Linked DNA regions of Homo sapiens. The protein of the gene in region 4 interacts with the protein of the main gene of each other region in a pairwise test. Each region holds a gene or a part of one and is shown on either strand. Other genes may lie near its edges. The genes, in order: AFTPH, MRPS6, TFG and STAT5B.

Region 1 (5,643 bases), on a different chromosome or scaffold from region 4:
GATAGAACAGTTCTTATCCTGATTGTAGTGATGGTCACTCTAATCCACACATATAAAATTTTTAGAACTGTACGCATGCACACACACACACACACACACACACACACACACACACACACACACACACACACAACTGGTGAAATCCAAACAAGGTCTGTACCTGAGTTAATAGTATTGTACTGATGTCAGTTTCCTGGTTTGACCATGTGTTATGGTTATTACCTTATTACTATATTACCATTGGGAGAAGCTAAGTGGAATATACACAAGAACTCTTGTATTTCCAACTTTTTTTGAGTCTTAAACTATTTCAAATTATTAAGTATTTAAAAATTAACTTGGGTCAGAAATAAACATTGAAAAGCCAAGTGAAGAAAATATTTGTAACAATTATTACTGATAAAATTTTGATGCCTTTATTAATATAAAGAACTCATACAAATCCATAAGGCAAGCACTGAATCCTTAATGAATTGAAGGAGAACTTAACAGAATAAGCACTTACCCCAGGAGAGAATTTTGTAGCTGTACTTTTGTAAGTGTATATTCAGAATTATCTGGAATCCCCACATTTCATTAATGTACTACCAGTGCTCTTGGTAACATGTAGTCTAAGAGAACTTTTTTTTTTTCCAGTGCACTATAGCTGTGTAAAGTAATTGCACCTAAGAGAAAAATAGATTAAAAGATACAAAACATCATGCAGGACATGGTCAAGGAAAAAAGGAGACAAAATAGAGCATTGTAAATTTGCATTGTTTTAAAGTAGCTTTGAGAGAATTTTGAAAGATCTTGTTCTATGTAATCTGTCCCCTCCAAAAATTCTTTTTTTCTTTTTTACAGGTGTAAATTAATTATTTGAAAGCAACTGAACAATGGAGCCAGACATCATTCGAATGTACTCTTCATCCCCACCACCATTAGACAATGGAGCAGAGGATGATGATGATGATGAATTTGGGGAATTTGGTGGGTTTTCAGAAGTTAGCCCTTCTGGTGTAGGGTTTGTTGATTTCGATACACCAGATTATACTCGTCCCAAGGAAGAGTTTGTACCTTCAAACCATTTTATGCCAATTCATGAATTCTCAGAAAATGTAGATAGCCTTACAAGCTTTAAGTCCATTAAAAATGGTAATGATAAGGACATCACTGCTGAACTTTCTGCTCCTGTGAAAGGACAGTCTGATGTTTTACTTTCTACCACCAGCAAAGAAATAATTTCATCTGAAATGTTAGCTACTTCCATTGATGGCATGGAAAGACCAGGAAATTTAAATAAAGTAGTGGAGCAGAGACAGAATGTTGGAACACTTGAAAGTTTCTCTCCAGGAGATTTTAGAACTAATATGAATGTTGTTCATCAAAACAAGCAGTTAGAGAGCTGCAATGGTGAAAAGCCTCCTTGTCTGGAGATTCTAACAAATGGGTTTGCAGTGTTGGAAACTGTAAATCCTCAGGGAACAGATGATCTGGACAATGTAGCTGATTCAAAGGGACGGAAGCCTCTTAGCACTCATAGCACTGAGTATAATTTAGACTCTGTACCTAGTCCTGCTGAGGAATTTGCAGATTTTGCCACATTTTCCAAAAAGGAAAGGATACAATTAGAAGAAATAGAATGTGCAGTTTTAAATGATAGAGAAGCACTAACCATTCGGGAAAACAATAAAATTAATAGAGTCAATGAACTGAATTCTGTAAAAGAAGTGGCTTTGGGTAGAAGCTTGGATAACAAAGGAGACACTGATGGAGAGGATCAGGTTTGTGTTTCAGAAATAAGCATAGTGACTAACAGAGGTTTCAGTGTTGAAAAACAAGGCCTTCCAACACTGCAACAGGATGAATTTTTACAGTCAGGTGTTCAGTCAAAGGCTTGGAGTTTGGTAGACTCAGCTGATAATTCAGAAGCCATTAGGAGAGAACAATGTAAAACTGAAGAAAAACTTGACTTACTTACTTCTAAATGTGCTCACCTATGCATGGATTCTGTTAAAACTTCTGATGATGAAGTTGGTTCTCCCAAAGAAGAAAGTAGAAAGTTTACTAATTTCCAAAGCCCAAACATTGACCCCACAGAAGAAAATGATTTGGATGATTCTTTAAGTGTAAAAAATGGTGATAGTAGTAATGACTTTGTGACTTGCAATGATATCAATGAAGATGATTTTGGTGATTTTGGTGACTTTGGCTCTGCCAGTGGCTCAACTCCACCTTTTGTTACTGGTACTCAAGATTCAATGAGTGATGCCACTTTTGAAGAGTCTTCAGAGCACTTTCCACATTTTAGTGAACCAGGTGATGACTTTGGAGAATTTGGGGATATAAATGCTGTTTCTTGCCAAGAGGAGACAATATTAACAAAGTCAGACCTAAAACAGACTTCTGATAATTTATCAGAAGAATGTCAATTGGCAAGAAAATCTAGTGGAACAGGCACTGAACCTGTTGCAAAACTTAAAAATGGGCAAGAAGGTGAGATTGGACATTTTGATTCTGTGCCAAATATTCAGGATGACTGCAATGGTTTTCAAGACTCTGATGATTTTGCAGACTTCAGTTCAGCTGGTCCTAGCCAAGTTGTAGATTGGAATGCTTTTGAGGATGAACAAAAAGATAGTTGTTCTTGGGCTGCTTTTGGAGACCAGCAGGCTACTGAATCTCATCATCGAAAGGAAGCCTGGCAGTCACATAGGACAGATGAAAATATTGATACTCCAGGAACCCCCAAAACGCACAGTGTACCTTCAGCAACTTCCAAAGGAGCAGTTGCTAGTGGCCATTTACAGGAATCAGCCACTTCAGTTCAGGTATTTACTAATTTTCTCTATTTTGTATGATGTATTAATTGTTGTGGAGGCTTCTAATTTCAGCTTTTCAAAAAATATTTTTTCAACTGAGTACTTGTTAAAGGAGTCTCGTTATGATGTATAATGCCTGTCTGATTTGTGGGTTGGTTACATTTTTCACAACCCTTTGGGAAACTACAAATAGTCCTATAGTAAAGCGCAGTAAGATTTTTCTTTATCTCAATGAGTTTCGTTAATATTTACAGATACTCATCAACTTGGATTTTTTGGTGACTATAAATACCATATATGTTAAAAAAAAAAAAAAAAACCCACACTTATTACCTAATTGACGGTTCCAGTCAATCCTTCAGTATTACCCTTTACAGTGATTTTAAAAGAAGGTTAAACTGAGATTTGGATCTTTTTTTTTTTAAGCTTAAGAATAGAATGTTAATTTTTTCCATCAAAGACCTAGGAAATTCAAGTACGGTTTTGATTCCAGGAGAGAACAAGCAGAATTTGAAACCTCATTCTGTGCCAAAGGCTATAGTGAATTGAAGAACAGAAAAACAACTAGAAAAAAGCAAGTTTTTCTTTTTCCTCATAATTTAGCAGCTGCTAAAAGACTTGGGGTGAGGGTATGAGATGAATTAAGGTTTAGTCCTAAAATAAGAAATAACTATAGGTTCACTTATTGTAGTTGTATTTATTTGCCTATACTTTCTTACAAATGTACTTGTTAGCTCTTCCTAGAGAGTAGGTGTGTCAGGGAGAATATTTTTACCCCTTACCTCCTATACATTATCCTTTTTTGATTCAGACTCTTTCAGAAAAGATTCATTAAGATTCACTTTGACCTAAAGTAGCCCCTAGAGGTGTAGCTTGATATCTAGGTTGTTCCCCAGTCCAGAGTTCTACTCTGTGCTAAACTTTACCTTTTTTCAACTCCAGGGGTGTGGAAGAGGGCACTCCCTTGAACCTCACTGCCTTATACTGACAATTGATATATGTAACTAACACCTGATCCACAAGCTTATTTTAAATATACTGTTAATAAACTCAGAATCTACAAACTTTATTTCTCCAGTTATCTTCTGCTAAGAAAACCATTTTCAACTGGAAATCTTTCCAAAGTCTTTGTAATTGAAATACTTATATTTCATTGCCTTGATAACTTTGAGACAGTAAGATATTAGAGAAATTATGGTATTACCAGTTGGTGTGCATAGCTAATCGCTTTTTAGTTGGCTTTTGTGTCAAAGTAGTTTAATTTGCTAATTCAGTTATTACATGGTTTAGCTAATGTGTATTATTCCTATTGAGCAGTTCATTATTTAGGCAGAACCTTGCCATTTTAAACAAGAAGTGAACTAATTATGATGCTAAATGAGGACTGTTGCTTTTGACCTAACCCTTTCCCTATTTAGTTTCATCTCACTAGAGGATAGGGTGACACTGGTATTGGGTGATCTTTAATTTGTAGCCTTAGAACTTTTAACATCATCAGATAATGAATTTTTTAAAGTGTGACCACTCAAGTAGGAATTTCTTGCATCATACAAGTTGATTGAAGTTATTTATGTATAATTTGATAACTGGATATAGGAGATAATAAAGCGTATGGGCTTCATGGAATCTGACAGATCTGAGTTTGAATTTTGACCCAGCCTCTTAAAAAGCCTTATGATTTTTGGATAGGTTACTTCTGAATTCAGCTGTATATACAAAGAAGGTAATACCTACTTCAAAGAACTTTTGTGAATATAAAAGGAAATTTTAAAATGAGTGAAATAATCTGCTAGAAAATAAGAATTTTATAGTATGATTCTTTTTTTTATAAAAATAAAACAAACTATAGATGGGGCAAGATGCATTAAGAGTTTCTGAGACCAGGTGCAGTGGCTCATGCCTGTAATCACAGCACTTTGGGAGGCTGAAGTGGGTGGATCACTTGAGGTCAGGAGTTCTAGCCCTGCCTGGCCAACATGGTGAGACCCTGTCTCTACTAAAAATACAAAAATTAGCTGGGCGTGGTGACGTGCATCTGTAATCCCAGCTACTCAGGAGGCTGAGACAGGAGAATAACTTGAACCCAGCAGGTGGAGGTTGCAGTGAGCCGAGATCACACCACTGCATTTCAGGCTAGGCTACAGAGAGAGACTGTCACACACACACACACACACACACACACACACACACACACACACAAGACTTTCTTGGATTTGTTTGGCTAAGGCCTCATGCTTCTATTTTTGCTAATGGGTTATGGAAAATGAACAGAATTTGGATGTTGGGAAAGAGAAACTGCTGGAGGAGGCCAGAAGAAGTTTGGGAAGAAAGTTGAAGTAGTGAAATGGATAAACCCTGCTGAGTAAGTGACTGAGTCAGAAGTGGAGAAAGATTGAACAAAGACTCTCGTTCTTACCCTGCTGTTGTGAAAGAGAATTGCGGCTGGCACTTTATTTCTTGGGCTTCAGATTCTGCTAGAAGAGTGCATTAATTTAGCCCTTTTGGAGAGGATTAGATTTATTAGTATTTTTCTTAAAATGTTTTCCCTAGTTGCTCCGGACAGTGTTTGGAACAGCACGAATTCCTCACTTTTTTTTTTTTTTTGGAGACAGAATCTTGCTCTGTCACCCAGGCTGGAGTGCAGTGGCACGATCTCAGCTCACTGCAGCCTCCGCCTCCCGGGTTCAAGCAGTTCTCCTGCCTCAGCCTCCCTAGTAGCTGGGACTACAGGCCCATGCCACCACGCCCGGCTAATTTTTGTACTTTTATTGGAGATGAAGTGTCACCATATTGGCCAGGCTGGTCTCGAACTCCTGACCTCAGGTGATCCACCCGGCTCGGC
Region 2 (5,643 bases), on a different chromosome or scaffold from region 4:
GTGGAAACGCCTGCTGCAAGGAGAAGGAAAGCTGTGGAAACCATCGGGGAGGAAGCCAGAGGCACACCTTGGCAAAGACAAGGTGCACATCTCCTCAAAGACCTACGTGAAGAGGTGCAAGCAGGGTGATTTTAAAGTGCAGGAGGAAACTTAAGAATAGGCTACCTTCCAGAGGTTCATTTGGGGATCAAATGAAGAGAAAATTGCAGAACAAGTTTAAGTGTGCATTCTGGCAACCAAACAAAATCCACTATATTTTTAAAATTTTCTTTCTGACAAGTGCTGCTAAAATGGTATGAAATGTGCTAAGTATTGGCTTAAGGCTTAGAAAAAAACATTCTTTACTTTCTTTTCATATTGAAGTCCATTAGGGATTTTAAAAATTCCTACTGAATCGTTGTTTATATATTTAACCAACCTTAAGATAAAACAGAAATTTCCTGAAGACAATAAAAATTCAGGCCAAAATCTCTTCCCATTAACAGTAGGTAAAAAGTCTAAGGCAATTTATCCTTATGATTGTATCAAACACATTCCTAGACAGTTCTAATCATATGAAGACTACATTCTTCTCACATTTCATTATAGTTCACAAAGACATCGCCATACATCTGCAGAGGACTCATTATTAACAGCAGCACAGTATTTCATTTAACTGAAAATGCTGTTTCTTGACCTGGCATTACATCAATTAACGTATGATAAGGTAAAGGAACAGCCCATCCAAATAAAGAGTCGGGTCTCAGCTTTGCACTCAAAAAAAAAAAGGAAAAAAACATTTGATTGATTAGTTTTCTGATTAGCTACCCAAATAAATTTCAATTCCAGTTTTGCCTGATTAAAAAGGAATATATCTCAATATCTTTTAAGTTCCAACTGAAGTGTTTACAGTATAAAACTCATTACCCTCTTCTGAAGTAAGAGCTTATAAAGTAAAAAACATTTTCTTCTTACATCTGTCTCAAAAAGGGGAAAGGCTACCTAACAAGAATGTAACTTAGGAAAATATAAAAAAAAAAATTGTTTGACTTCAGTATGTCAAGGTCAAACTGTAGACTACTGGAATGGCCACATTCATCTCACTTTAATTTCAAAACACCCAGAAGTATAAAACGAAAGGTGGAAGGAGGAGCAAAAATAACGCCCCATAGACCTTACCTCACCATAAAGCAGGGTTGGCAAACCAGGGCTCTTGGGCCAAATCTGGCTTGCTACCTGTATTTGCAAATAAAGTTGAACTGGAACACAGCCAACTCACACATCTGCATAGTGTCTATGGCTACTTCTGTGCTAAAGGTAGATCTGTAATTACAAGAGACCACATGGCCCCAGAGCCTAAACTATTTACTATCTGGCCAACCCCTGGTTCTATATTGTGATGGGCTGAGGGAAGCTGGCAGGTCCTTAATCCATGTACCCTAAAATGCACCACAAATAAAACCATGAGCCTGGGCCACTGACTGACGTATAGAGGGTGTATTCCTCACTGGATGTGTCATCAGGTAGACACATCGGGTACCATCTAACGAATACCATCAGTTGAGCTGTTCAACTCACTGCAGGGCTCAGAACTGATTCCACTAATCCACTATTCCATCTGCCAAGCTCCTAATAATGTCTTTATCAACCCAGGTTGCCAACTTCAATGTTCCTCATTTGGTGAAACCTATAGATCTATTAAAATAAAATTCTTACGCTTAGAGGGGAAAAAGTTCTGCTCAATCCAGCACAATGTTCAACTTACAAAAGCATATAGTTTACAGGAAACAAATGATCTTGCTGCCATAATTCTCATTTATAAAGTCTCTGAACCACTCAATTCCAACTATTCTAAGAGAAGTTGTGCAGGCTTCTGAGAGGCTTCTCTCACCCCATCTGAAAGCAACTCCTTCAACTCTTTCCTTCTACCTACCAAATGCATCAATGAAACACACTTTGGCAAGGCACAGACTGAGGGCTGAAAACATTCATTTGAAAAAAAAATACAGAAAGAAAGGAATGAATGAATGGGAATGGAAACTAGAAAAACTAGGACTATGATTCTAGTCCTAGCTCATTCACTAATGAGTTATACAAACCTGAATATGTTATTAAAATTTATCAATTTTAAACTTGTACCTCAGTTTCCTCATCTGCTAAATTAGTAGTTCTCGATTTTCCTGTTGCTACAAGCTTCACATGAATAAACAACATTCATACTGCAATTCTCAACATCTGCTGGAGGCACAACAAAGTTTGATGAAAGTCTTTTTATGCCCCCCAATTCTGATATCTTCATCACCAAAATGCACCTCCATCCCCCAGTTCTCCTGATGTCATTCTTTTTTTACTTCTAACAGCACTACAGCAATCTAAAAATATTCTTTCACTAACCAGAATGTAAGCTACAGAGGAGCAAGGACCTTTGTCTATCTTGTACATGACTGTATTCCCAACGTCTAAAATGGGCCACACTCATCGAACAGGTGCTAGAAATAGCTGTGCTAATTGTACCTCCTTTAAGAGGGTCTCTTGCTTACTTACTCCTATCTTTCCTCAAGGAACTCTAAGTTTCCTTCTATCTCTAACATAACTTGAAGCCACTTTTCATATACAACAAAGCTCACTATCAAGGTGGTAACTGTAACACTGAGGCAAAATTACAATACTAATGTTTTCCCATTTACTTCACGCAGTACCAAAATGCTGTTCACACCAATACTGTATTTCAAAAATACCTACAATTCATCTAGAAGTGAAATTAATTAAATATTTTATACATTTCAAATATCAAATTCCAATACACATATAAATATAAATGTTAAAATTACATTATAATTATTTGCTGATTAGGTAAGATAAAGTACTATCCAAAAATTTAACGAAATAGTATAATACTTATAAAAAAGGTAATTAATCCTAGAAGAAATTAAAGCTAATTTTTTATATTAATTACCAAAACTAATGTTTAGCCTACAAAAGACTTAGGGAAAACCCAAGAGCTAACTTCAAATATTTGCAGGGCTATTATGCAAAAGGTAGATTTGTTTTATTTTGATTGGATTCCAAGAGTGGACTAGAATCAAAGGGTAAAAATTAGAGAAATCAAGCTGTATTTTGTAAACAAGAACATATTTCCAAAAATATACAGCTGTATGAAAATGCAGTGGGCTGCCTTGTGAAGTAGTGACCTTCCCATCACTTGAAGTACATAAATAGATACAGGATGGCTGTTGGATTAATATCTGCATGGGTGGGAGGTTGAACTCAACAACTTCTTAAAGCCCCTACCAAGACTAAATACTACTCTGGTACCACTCATCATTCTGAAGGACATTCTGCAGTGAAGCCAGTTTTGAAAACTGCAACTGCATAGCAATGAAGAATACACGTACTGCTAGGAAAAGTTAATGCTGCTGACTAGATTCATGCTAACGTACCAGCTGTTCTACTCACTACTGTTTTCACAATGATCTTCTAAAAGGGTCCCCCGTAAAGCCCAAGAGTCCTCAAACCATATTTTGAAAACCACAGTTCTAGAGATGCTAATGGGAAAAGTTGCTGTAGTAAAAGATGAGAGCAAAAAGGTGGGAAGAATGAAAGGAAGAAAGGAATCTCTCCTTGTCCCCCAAATAAAATCCCCACTCAGGAAGGTTACTGAAGCTAAGAATTCATGGAAGTATCATAACCACCACCACTAGTCAATGACCAACGTTTAACCTAATTAAACATATTTTCATCCCAGAAGAGAAACTTGTCAACAAAATTATCTTAGAAATTAGACTCTATGGGAAAGACAGTTTTAAGCCAGTGGCCTCCAATATACCCAGCTAGCACTACCACACCCTAGTTCCCCAGAAAATAAAGCACACATAGAATCCACAACATTCAACAGCATGCAGCATCTACCTACACCCTGCCCGCCTCACGTTACAAAGAGTTATACAACACTCAAGAGCAGGCAGGACTCAGGGAAGGTAGAGCCAAGACACAGAACTGTCAAAACCTGTGAAAATGTACATGTAAAAGTCTTTCCCATTCTTTGCTGAATCTTAATTCCAAATCTTACTTCCTTTAAAAAATTTCCTTGCAATTTAAATTTTCAAATAGAAAGGCTGTCCCTGTGAATTCTGCATTGACATTCTCACAGCAATCTGAAAATCTGTGAGCCCTAACTTTTCAACAGTCAAATGGGTGTCATGGAAAGTGGCTGAAGTTCTAGCAGACCTTGGGAGAACCATCTACATAAAAATATGTGAAGTGCCAGCCTTGCCTAATGACATAAGCAAAGCCCAACTATGAAATTGATTCCACAGGAACTGTTTGATCAAATATTCTTCATTGTAGAGAACCTCTTTTGCCCAACAATTTATTGAATCAGGAGTTTCAGTCCTCTAGGTAATTAAGGAATAAAAATTATCGAACACAGAAACTACTTTTTAAATTAGAATAAAATTCAATAAGGACAAGTCTAGAACACTAAGAAACATAAAGATGCCTAAGTACATGTTCAAATGTGATTACTTACCTCTACAGGCCTGAACCTGAAGTTATAACTTGAAGTGACTAGAAAAGTAACCTTTATAGGCTTTGTAAAGGTCAAAGATAGAAAACACTTATTAAAATTTAAATGCTGTACTCCTTTGCTTATGAATCATATTATATAGGCCATTTTTAAGAAACATGGAGTAGGCTGGGCACAGTGGTTCTTTCCTGTAATCCCAGCACTTTGGGATGCCAAGGCGGGCAGATCACTTGAGGCCAGGAGTTTGAGACCAGCCTGGCCAACATGGCGAAACCCCATCTCTACTGAAAATATAAAAATTAGCCAGGCGTGGTGGTGTATGCCTGTAGTCCCAACTACTCGGGTGGCTGAGGCTCAAAAATTACTTGAGCCAGAAGGAGGTTGTAGTGAGCTGAGACTCTGTCTCAAAAAAAAAAAAAAAAAGAAAGAAAGAAAGAAATGTGGAGTAACTAATGAATAAAGACTTAACAGGCTTTAAAACAGTAGGTAAATGGGAGGGGAAAGAAGAGACAGGAACCAAAATACAGTGACCCTGGAGCAATACAGGTTGAAACTGTGTAGGTCCACTTACAAGCGAATTTTATTCAATAAATATATTGGAAAAATTTTTGAAGAGTCACAACATTTTGGAAAAAAAAACTTGCTTTTTCTCTAGCTTACTTTATTGTAATACAGTATATAATACACATAACATACAAAATAACATTGGTAAGGCTTCCAGGTCAACAGTAGGCTATTGGTAAAGTTTCTGGGGAGTCCAAAGTTTACACACAGATTTTCAATTATGCATACCCCTACACTGTTCAAGGGTCTAACTGTACATAAAGTGTAGTAAGAAAATAATAGTGTAATGCAGAGAAAAACTCTTTGAATAAACCAATGCTGTGTGCTCTGCAAAAACAAAAATACCCCAAATTTTAAAATTTTTAAAATAATGTTGAAAAAAATACTGCAGATTCACAGGTCAGGCTTTTCAAGTGGTCATTTAATTGTCAGGCTATAGTGTAGAATCTTAAGAATTGCTTAAGTTAATATATTAACTAAAAAGCACTCGTGAATATGGTATTTATATAATCATCTTTCTGAGAAACAGTTACATGCGGGAAAACATCACGCATCTTTATGGGGAAGCCATTTTA
Region 3 (5,643 bases), on a different chromosome or scaffold from region 4:
TTATACATAAACAGCAAACATTATTTGGTACAATGATCCTTCCAACTGTCATTGTATCACAGTATACACTGCTTAAAATGGGATTTATTTAAAAACAAATCTTTAGTTCGCTTGATGTAGGCATTAAACTCTCATCATACCTATACTCTGCTTTTGTCCATTTCAGCTGACATCTGCTTTAGTTCTAGTTTGTTCTAGTTTTGGCAGTAGCATTTTGGTGCAGAGGAGGAGTTAATTAAAGTTGGTTGAGAAAAGGCTTAAGCAATAAGAAATTCTTCGCAAACCACTGATTCATCAGCAAAATGTCACCTGCTAGTCCATAATGACTGGTGTTCATCCAACAGACAACTCTGTGGATTTTTTTTTTTTTGGCTTTGTTTGTTTTTGAGACAGGGTCTCGTTCTGTTGCCCAGGCTGGAGTGCAGTGGAGTGATACAGCTCACTGCAGCCTAGACCACCCACTTCAATTCAACAATGCAAACAATCCTCCCACTTCAGCTTCCCAAGTAGCTGGAACTATAGGCACATGCCATAGCACCTGGCTAATTTTTTTAAATCTTTTTTTATTTTGTAGGGACAGGGTCTCACTATGTCACCCAGCCTAGTCTCAAACTCCTGGGCTCAAGTGATCCTCCTGGCTCGGCCTCCCAAAGTGCTGGGATTATAGGCGTGAGGCACCACACCTAGCCAGGTAACTCTGAAAGTATCACCACAGGATGATAGGATTCTATTCCAAAAGTGGTCAGTTCATTTTAGCCTATGTTTTGTTTTTGTTTTAATGTAATTGATAACCTTAATCACTTGCTTCTGGGGCTGGAAATACATTATACCACTATCTGACCCGTTAAACAAATAGTTAGAGCACCACCTGGTGTTTGTTTTGAAGTGGAATGCGGCTTTAAAGGTCCCAACACACATAGACAATACAAAAATCACACTTCATTATCTGGAAGGCACCCTAGAGATTAGTTAAGTACTTAGTCACATTCTGCAGAACTCCAAGGTTTTCAATGAGGCACCTTAGTGCCTGCTGTGTGAAGTCTGTTGCCCTTCAATCCCCTATTTTAAATATGGAGCTTTCAGGTTATATTTCATTCAGAACTAAAGACATTCTTTTGAAACCACTGGGTTCAGTCCAGTTTTCACATTTTACAGTGAAAGAATATCAAAACCCAGAGAGACTAAACTGCATATCCAAGGACAGATTATTTCAGAAGAAAAAGTCTGACTTAAAATACACTGCTTTTTTTCCATTAAAGACATATTGCTAAATTTACAAAATTATAAAAGGCTACTAATCTTAACAAAAAAAACCCACTACAACTAAAGTTATCCTTTACCTCTATTCAGAAATCTTTTTTAAATTAGAAAAATCATGCACAGATGTTGAAGAAAGGAGGGAGATAAAATAGCATCTATAACACAAAATAAAGTGTGAAATCACCAGTCTGAACTTCACTATCCTCCCCTCCAAGGGTCACCACTGACTAATGACTGGTCTTTCACTCTGTATCTATATTCATAGAAACACTTTTTTGAGGTATTTTTTTCATTCCAATAATTGGAAACATACCTGACATATTGTTCTATTTGGTTTTTTAACATCAAATCATGTCAGTAAATCAAAATTTTTCCTGTGTTTAAGGCATGACTAAATACATGAAGTGTTTACAACAATGCTGTAATAAACACTTCTACACATGTACTTTCCCAAACATGTGTTCTAAACTCTATTTTACCTTCAATCTGACCTGCTTGAGTCTGAGCTCCTGTATATGGTGGCTGCTGTGGCTGAACGCCTGGTGGGTGAGCTGCTGAGGAGGAGGAAGCAATGCTGTCGGGTGTTCCTGAACGATCTTCTGCAGGAGCACTGGGTGGCCCTGGATAGTCAAAAAAAAGTCAGTTTAGTATCCAACACAAGGCCTTCCCCCAGCAAGCTCAAGGAATAAGTTTGGTTAAAAGATACTAAAAGTACTATAGAATAAGTATATAACCACAAATACGCCTTTTTACATTAAATGTATGTACTTTATTTTTTCCTTTGCTCCAATCTCTTAATCCAAAGCTACAACTGGAACTCCTTCCTTATAAAGTGTAGAGTACTATATTCCTGAGTCTTAACCTCTCCCTGCAAAAATCAAAACTCATGTCTGCAATGCCAATATCCCCCTACTCCAAGCAATGTATTCTGCACAGGAACCAAAATTGTCACTTCATTCTTCAAGGGGTCTTCACTGACCATAAATTAAGTTCAACCTCCTAGTTTGGCATTAAGGGTCCAAACATTATTTCTCACAATTTCTCTTCTCACATGCCTCCCTTTCAGCTAAACTAACCTTCTCCCTACTCCCATAACATAGCTAATATTTTTTTGACCTCTATTTCTCTCCCACTAGATCCCATATATTTAAATATAACATTCACATATTTAAATATAACATTATTTAAAATCCAATTATAATTCCACACTTCTAGTAAGCCTTCTTGACTCATGAATACTTTTTCTACTAGTGAACTTCTATCTAGTTTACTTTTGTTAACTCATACTGACTTCTACTTTGCATTTCTGAATAGCTCTCACTTTCCCTCTTAAAGACTCTGCACTCTTTTGGCCGGGCTCCTGACTGTTGATTCTTTTTGTCTGCCGAACAAGGCCTAGCACTCTAACTTACATATGGAGCCACTATAATTCTTACAAAATAATGAACACAGAAATGAATGGAGAGAATATATTACAGTTCCAATGCTGTGACAGTCAAAAAAGATATTCTGAGGACAATGTAAATATGTCTTATTCCTTTAAATTCTTTCTGCTTTGGCAATGCAGAAGAGTGGTTAAAAGCATAGGTTTTGGAGCTAGACTACCCAGGTTCAAATCCTAGTGCTGTCACTCACTAGCTGTGTAACTCTGGACATGTTACATAATCTCTTTCTGTGCCTCAGTTTCCTCATCTGTACAAAGGATATACTAATTCCTACTTGATAAGGTTATTGTGAGGATTATGAGTTTACAAGAGCTTATAGCATGGGCTTATAAAAGGAATTATACAGCAAAAGCTTATAAAAGTGACTACTACTCAGAAAGTTCCATATAAGTACTTGCTATTATCAGCAGACTAATTTCTCTAAGGGCAAACCTCTATCTTCTGCTCTGATGTATCCCCAGAACTTACCACAGTATTAGGCACAGTTGACAGCTGACAGTCCAAGTATTAATAAGAACCTAAACTAGGATATAATAGTGGTAATGCAAGAGAGACTGATGATTGCCAAAATAAAATGGATGATGGTTTCTATCTACCACCATTTTACTTAAATTTATATCTATGTAGATAAATACACACATTCTTCCCACAAAAGACACTGTTATTAGCCTAAATATATATATTTATTACTTTGGCTCCTCTTTCCTCCCTTATATGTAATTTATTACAGTTAATATTCATTCCATGTTTGTAATATTTTATCCCTCCTTCCCACTGCCACATTCATTATTCTAATAAGCCACATTTTTACCACATCACACCTGAAGAACTACAAAAGTATCCTAGCTATGCATACAGTTTTTCCTACTATAATTCAACATACAAAGCTGTGAGAAAAATGGTCTTCAAATAATGTGAATCATATTAATATTATTCTAGTCTGGAATATACTACATTTAAATCAAAATTTAAAAGTCTGACCTCATCAAATTTTCACACAATTCTCTTTTGTGAGTAATTCCATGAAAGTCTCTAAGAAATACAAAATGGACTGTACACATTTCCAACTACTGATAAAGGCAAAGTAAATCCATCAGATAAACTCTCTCCCAGGTAACAACTAAAAACATGAACAAAACAAAAGAAACTATTTGAAATAACTGAAAGTCAATCAGAAACCAGAGGAGTTTACCCCAATAAAATTAGAATGGATAAGAATTAAAAGCGCTGACCTCTGCAGCTCCAATGGCAGAAAACCACAGTGTTAACAACCTTATGGCTAGACAAGCAGCTGAAGATTTAGGAGGAAAATCCCGGAAGTGAAGGTGCTACTGAAAGGGTAAGACCCACGATCTAGGTATATACACTCTGTCCAAATCCCCAGCTGACTATAGGGCTGGGAGAGCAGACGAGGATATCTCAAGAAGGCTCAGAGAAAAATGCAGCACCTAGAGCAAGCTGAAAGGACTGAGCATACATATCAGCTGCTATACACCATAGGGAGAAAGAAGGAGCAGTTTTGAGTATGTGAAAGTTATCAAAACCAAAATGAAGTCATTAATGTTAAAAAAAAATTAAAAACTCTGATAAGGCCATGAAGAGAGGATTCTTGCAAAAACTATCACAAAAGAGTTCAAAAACCACAAGCCTACACAAAGGCCATCACAACTTTGCAAAAAAAAAAGCAAAAAAAAAAACTTCTGTGACTGTGAGGACATCTGCCCAGAAACTGCCTGTCCAACCTCAGACTGGCATCACTCTTGCTAATGATCTTTGTAGCCAACAATAATTATTTCAAAACAATTATATATTCTCCTCATTTTTTCCTTTAAAAACCTTTGTCTGCCTTTACCTCACTGAATATGCACATAGTTTACTATGGCATGCATATTTTCAATGCAATGCTCTATTCCCAAATACCTTTTTCTTTTAGAGAGCGCTTTTCTGTTTGTTATTTATGTTAAGTCCATACAAATCAACTCCCTGCTAGATCAACAATAACAGAAAATCCTCAAAAGAATATAAGTCCAAGTCACTACAACATATTAACCAGAATGTCTAGTTTTCAACCAAACACTATCAGACAGGCAAAGAAACAGAAAAATGTGACCCTACTGGAGTTGGGGGGAGTGTGTGTGGGGGAGAGGAACCCAGTCAATAGAAACTGACTCCAAATGGGTCCAAGTGTTACATATTGCAGATAAACATTTTAAAGCAGCTAAATATTTTTAAAGAATCAAACATAAATACATTCAAACAATTAAAGGAAAATATAGACTTAATGAATGTAAAATAAAGAATCTCAACAGAAAAACAGAAACTATAAAAACCCAATGGAAATTCTAGAGCTGAAAGCACAATTAAACAATTCACTAGAAAGGTTCCACAGCATATTAGAAATCACAGCGACCTTGAAGAGTTCAACAGAAATCACCCAACCTGAAGAACAGAGAGAAGACTGAAGAAAAATGAACCTTAATGACCCATGAGACAGTATCAAGCTCTCCAATGTATGTGTTATTAGAATCCGAAAAGAGAAAAAGCAGGAAAAAATAATGAAGAAATTATAACCAAAAGTTAAACAGAATAAAACAATATAGGTACTGCTTTAAGGTTAAAAACTTATTTATATAAAAACCCACTGTATACTCAAGCAATTTAACAAGAAAATCTACATTTAATTTTCAATTTCTCTAAGATGAGGAGATAAGACAAATCAAATATAATTCGAATACTGCAACTAATCAAATTATAAAATAGTTCAGATTTTTAAAAACTTTCTAAATTTTACTTTCAAAAATTTACTTGAACCCAACAGTGCTTATTCTTTAAGGGGGAGGGTGCTACTCTTGGGGAGAGGACATAAGAAAGCTTTCTGAAGTGCTGGAAATCATCTACATCTTAATCTAGTTAGTCTTTTACATAAGTGTACACATAT
Region 4 (5,643 bases):
GCACACACACACACCACACACATCACACACACAGCACACACACACACAGCACACACACCCCCCACAGCACACAGAGACACACAGTGCACACACACAGCACACACACACCACACACAGCACACACACAGACACACAGCACACACACACCACACCACACACACCACACCACACACAGCACACACACACCACACCACACACAGCACACACACACCACACATAGCACACACACACACCACACATACACACCACACACACATAGACACACAGCACACACACACACACACAGCACATGCTCCTCTAATTCCATGTATGTAGGTTCCATTTTATGTCTATAGTGATACTACTTATTTACTCTTTATCTTCTCCACTGGAATATAAATCTTTGAGAAGGGACTATATCTTTTATCTCTGTACCCTGAGGCCAGCACAATGCCTGAAACATAACAGTTATTGAGTAAAGGTTGACAGGATGATTCTAGCCTGTCTTCCTTTTTTATCTGAATCCATCCTAGACTGGCCCTAGAAGAAGGGCAGCTCCTTCAGAGAATGGAAACGGAAGATTTGGGATGGCTATTCCTACCCAAGTCCTTAGACTGTCAACAGTATTTCTGATCCCGTGCCTGGCTTTTCTGTTTCCTGTGCATGGTGGCGGATTAGGTTTGGATTCAGGTTGGGTTTGGATCTATCACGCAGTGTCTTCTCAGTCCCATTTGTCAAGTTCACTCAGCAGAAACACAGACTATTGATCTGCTTTTGCCAGGGAAGGCTCAGCTGCCTCCAGTGGAGTAGGGAAATTGCTTCCCGTCTCCCTGGCCTCCTTCCCAAAAGCTTCTGCAAATTTCCAGGAGAGCCCTAAGTGGGTCCCTTGCATAGGAAGGCTGGGCCCAGGTGTTGGGATCACCACCACCCTCCCTGTGGCTGGGCAGGATTCCTGAGGTAGCCGTGCAGATACCTTGGATCTGTCCGTCCCTGGATGATCCTCTTCCTGCTCGATACCTGCAGTGAGATTGGAGCCATATTTCTGAGTTCTAGCTCTGGGCTGTTCCTGGCTACATAGAGTTGCTTTTGTCTGTCCCAGCTTGTGCATCCCATGGGTCAGGGCTGGGGTCAGAGTGACGTGGCCCTCAGGGGCCAGCCAGGAGCTCGACCAAGACATGCTGGTGCGCGCATCTTCTGACTCAGCTCAAGCAAGGACTCTGGGCTGTTGAGAAGGTGATGGGAAGGGATTAATAGTCCCAGTGTGGTGGAGACGGGCTGTCGCTGGGAGGGTGGGGTGGGCCTGCGGTGGTGGTTGTAACTGTGGACATGTTTACTTTCTTAGCCTGGGTTATTGATACACAGGTGCTCCTGTGTTCCACGTTCCCTGTGTCTTACCTATTTCATAATAATTTTTAAAAGGTAATGAGGCCTAACTTACTCCCTGTCCCGCCATCAATGAGACTCCTCACAGATGGTGTGGAGGGAAGCCGCCTCCCTTCGGCCTCCCTTTCCTGAGAGAATCTTGGTGGCTCTGCATCCCCAGTGGCCCTGGACATGCTCTCCCTCTGCGGTCTGTCTGTCTGTCCGTGTTCCCTGGTTGGTTGGCTGGGTTCACAGTGAGCTCACCTGGACAAACATGCTGGGCCCCTTCCAGCCTCTCAAGAATCTCATCCTCCCCTGAGGAGGGATTGCTGTGCTCAGGGACTAGACAGAGCCGCCGGGGCTGGGTTTCCCTGAAGAGGCCTTGCTGCGGGAGGGATGGGGCCGAGCAGCTGCTTGTCTCTGTCACCTCTTCTCTCTGTCCTGTTCCCCGTTAACCAAGAAGCACGAACCTCACACAGAGCTCACCCATGTCAGGCAGCTTTCTGGCATCTTCCATGTCCTCATGTATTTAATCTTAATGCACCCCACTGAGGCAGGTGCCGAGAATCTCCCGTTTTACACGTGGGGAAGCCAAGGCACAGGAAAGGAAAGCGATTTGCCCAGGTTCACCTGCAGTCAAGGGCATGGGCACACTTACACCCCAGACAGCCTGGACCCATGCTGGGCCGCGAGAAGAGGGCTGGCAGCCCTGTGAGGCAGGCGGGCAGGAGGCAGGCAGGCCTCCTCCCCAGCTGCCCCAGCACCCGTGTGCCCCCAGAGGGGACGGCTCAGAGTCAGGAGGCTGGCGAGCAGGGCCCAGAGGCGCCTCCTGGGGCACCCATTCATCTTGGCCCCCCTGGCTGTCAGGAACCCCGACTTGCCCTTAATGCAGTATCTGAGCCCAGGAGGGTCTCGCTCCAGAACGGGTGAGTGGGCTTCTCTGGGCCTCCTGTTGGACACTGGGAGGTGATGGTCATGGTTTCCTCTCCCCTCCTCTAGCTCAGTTTGGCCCGCTGGCCCAGCTGAGCCCCCAGGAGCGTCTGAGCCGGGAGACGGCCCTCCAGCAGAAGCAGGTGTCTCTGGAGGCCTGGTTGCAGCGTGAGGCACAGACACTGCAGCAGTACCGCGTGGTGAGTGGGGTCCTGGGCCTCTCCTGGGCGTGGGTGCCATGAAGTCAGTCTCTGGGGACCCGAGGGAGGGCTGGGACCAGCATGAGAGCAGAACCTGGGAGGGCAGGAGGCCTTTTTTCCTGGGGGCCTTGCGAGGCAGAGCAGCTTGGGGAGAGGGAACGGCCTGGGCCCTGCCCTGCCATTTCCCAGCGAGGCCCTGCGGTGTTCTCTGGGAGCCCAGAAGGGGCTGCTCTCCTCCCTTCCCTCAGGAGCTGGCCGAGAAGCACCAGAAGACCCTGCAGCTGCTGCGGAAGCAGCAGACCATCATCCTGGATGACGAGCTGATCCAGTGGAAGCGGCGGCAGCAGCTGGCCGGGAACGGCGGGCCCCCCGAGGGCAGCCTGGACGTGCTACAGTCCTGGTAATGGTGTGGGGCGGCCAGCGGGCAGGGCAGGAGGGGCTGGTGGGGATCCCGGCTGCTTCTGCGTCCTGTGCTGGCTCCTGCAGCAGGCCCCCTCCATCCTGGGACAGCTCTTGTTTCTCCAGGGAGCCTGGTTCCTCAATCAGACTTTGGCCCCCATCCTGTGCACCTCCCCCAGGAAGGGGGCTGCTGTCCTGGAGATGGGACAGGGTTCGGGTGTGTGGGGTGATGCTTGGGCTGTTTGGGCCTAGTCAGGGTCGCCCCTCCTGTGTACGTCTCTAATTCTGGGAGGCAGGGAGCTCTGCTCTTCCCATGGGTGGGAAGTGTGGCGAAAGCACAGAGCCTTCCTGGGGGAACGGGAGCTGTGTCTTGGGGCCTGGCGTCTGTGCGGAGGAGCCATTGTCCTCCTGTTGGCCTTGGGGCTCTCGTGCAGGTGTGAGAAGTTGGCCGAGATCATCTGGCAGAACCGGCAGCAGATCCGCAGGGCTGAGCACCTCTGCCAGCAGCTGCCCATCCCCGGCCCAGTGGAGGAGATGCTGGCCGAGGTCAACGCCACCATCACGGACATTATCTCAGCCCTGGTGACCAGGTGACTGCTGCCTGTTTGCCATGCCCAGGAGCTTGGGGCAGCTCCTGCCTGCGTGGGGGGAGCCGCAGGTGCCTTCCAGACCAGCAGATCCACTTCCTGCCTCTCATCCCTCCCAACTCCATCTCCAGTTGCTGTGGCCCTTGCCCAGTTTCTCCTGTGGACACTGCAAGAGATGCCCTTGGGCTGCAGCCCATGCCAGCTTCTGTGTTATCTCACTCCCCTCTCCATCCTCTCCCTGGACTCTCACGGCTTCCCCAGGAACAGAGGCTGTGCCCGAGCTCTTCACCTCCTGAGCCCCTCGGGAGGCAGCCCCACCCCCACCACAGAGGGACTGAGAGCCCTTTCCCCTGCACCAGCCCCTCATCATGCATCTGTCCCTGTGTCCCCTGCAGCACGTTCATCATTGAGAAGCAGCCTCCTCAGGTCCTGAAGACCCAGACCAAGTTTGCAGCCACTGTGCGCCTGCTGGTGGGCGGGAAGCTGAACGTGCACATGAACCCCCCCCAGGTGAAGGCCACCATCATCAGTGAGCAGCAGGCCAAGTCTCTGCTCAAGAACGAGAACACCCGCAAGTAATTGTGCAGCTTCCTCTCATTCCCTGCTACTTGTCTCATGTCCTGGCAACAGGAAAAAAAGAATTCTGCCTCCTGTGTCAGATCCCTGTTTGCCCTTCTGGCCTCTTCTGGGCATCAGCAAAGGAATATAAGGAAGTTCTTGGGCCTGGTGTGGTGGCTCACACCTGTAATCCAAGCACTTTAAGAGGCCGAGGTGGGCAGATCACCTGAGGTCAGGAGTTCAAGACCAGCCTGGCCAACATGGTGAAACCCTGTCTCTACTAAAAATACAAAAAATTAGCCGGGCGTGGTGGCAGGCACCTGTAATCCCAGCCACTAGAGAGCCTGAGGCAGGAGAATCCCTTGAACCTGGGAGGCAGAGATTGCAGTGAGCTGAGATTGCAGTGAGCTGAGATCACGCCACTGCACTCCAGCCTGGGCAACAAGAGCAAAACTCCGTCACAAAAAAAAAAAAAAAAGTTCTCTTAGGAACTGTTTTCTGTGAAGATAGTTTGATCTTGTTTCATTTTGTAGAGATACGTCCGAGAAGATTACATGTATGTGTTATGTAGCTAACATTTCCTCTAAATGACGTACATTTTTAGCAAACTTCTCTATTTCCTGCTACCCCAAATTATATTATTTACTCCGCATGTCCTGAGACCCTGGCATGGGTTTGGAGCTGGTCTCTCTCTGATTTGCAGTGATTACAGTGGCGAGATCTTGAACAACTGCTGCGTCATGGAGTACCACCAAGCCACAGGCACCCTTAGTGCCCACTTCAGGAATATGGTGAGGGTGGAAGAAGAGGAAGAATGAATTTTTCCCTGGTCTTTGAGGGGAACAACTTATATCTTACGTTTCATCTTATGTTTCTTCTTTGTAGTCCCTGAAACGAATTAAGAGGTCAGACCGTCGTGGGGCAGAGTCGGTGACAGAAGAAAAATTTACAATCCTGTTTGAATCCCAGTTCAGTGTTGGTGGAAATGAGCTGGTTTTTCAAGTCAAGGTAAAGCCTTCCCTCAGCTCTGCGTGTGCGTGTGCGTGTGTGTGTGTGGTGTACTTTATGTTACAAAATATTTTTTTTTTATCACATAGCATCTTCTTCTTTTTGACTGTTGGTAAACTGAAAATGGACTGACCTCACCCTGAGAACTGTTTCACTTAGGTTCTCTTAAGACATGAACAGAGGCCAAGCACAGTGGCTCATGCTTGTAATCCCAGCACTTTGGTAGGTTGAGGCAGTCAGGTCACTTGAGGTCAAGAGTTCAAGACCAGCCTGGCTAACACAGTGAAACCCCATCTCTACTAAAAAGTACAAAAATTAGCCAGGCGTGGTGGCACGTGCCTATAATCCCAGCTACTCAGGAGAATCACTTGAACCTGGGAGGCTGAGGTTGTAATGAACCGAGATTGTGCCACTGCACTCCAGCCTGGGTGAAAGAGTGAGACCCTGTCTCAAAAAAAAAAAAAAAAGACATGAACAAGCAAGGCCCAGTGCAGTGGCTCACATCTGTAATCCTAACACTTTGGGAGGCCAAGGCAGGAGGATTGCTTGAGTTCAGGAGTTCCAGACCAGCCTGGAGCTGGTTGTGAGACCCCGTCTCAACAACAACAACAAATTAAAAA

The links.
Region 1: the proteins of STAT5B (region 4) and AFTPH interact in a two-hybrid assay, tested with the Homo sapiens proteins (one large-scale study listed by BioGRID and IntAct).
Region 2: the proteins of STAT5B (region 4) and MRPS6 interact in binary tests that used the Homo sapiens proteins (3 or more experiments, as listed by UniProt).
Region 3: the proteins of STAT5B (region 4) and TFG interact in a two-hybrid assay, tested with the Homo sapiens proteins (one large-scale study listed by BioGRID and IntAct).

Annotation. Positions count from the first base shown.
Region 1 is NC_000002.12:64,550,600-64,556,242, forward strand, and holds part of AFTPH (aftiphilin), read left to right. Parts: intron 1-505; exon of another isoform or gene 506-665; intron 666-843; 5' UTR 844-875; coding exon 876-2,810; intron 2,811-5,643. UniProt on the Homo sapiens protein: Component of clathrin-coated vesicles.
Region 2 is NC_000021.9:34,117,842-34,123,484, reverse strand, and holds part of MRPS6 (small ribosomal subunit protein bS6m), read right to left. Parts: intron 1-5,643.
Region 3 is NC_000003.12:100,732,813-100,738,455, reverse strand, and holds part of TFG (protein TFG), read right to left. Parts: intron 1,881-5,643; coding exon 1,740-1,880; intron 1-1,739. UniProt on the Homo sapiens protein: Plays a role in the normal dynamic function of the endoplasmic reticulum (ER) and its associated microtubules. Required for secretory cargo traffic from the endoplasmic reticulum to the Golgi apparatus.
Region 4 is NC_000017.11:42,216,540-42,222,182, reverse strand, and holds part of STAT5B (signal transducer and activator of transcription 5B), read left to right. Parts: intron 1-2,340; coding exon 2,341-2,471; intron 2,472-2,719; coding exon 2,720-2,871; intron 2,872-3,304; coding exon 3,305-3,460; intron 3,461-3,852; coding exon 3,853-4,032; intron 4,033-4,718; coding exon 4,719-4,806; intron 4,807-4,900; coding exon 4,901-5,023; intron 5,024-5,643. UniProt on the Homo sapiens protein: Carries out a dual function: signal transduction and activation of transcription. Mediates cellular responses to the cytokine KITLG/SCF and other growth factors. Binds to the GAS element and activates PRL-induced transcription.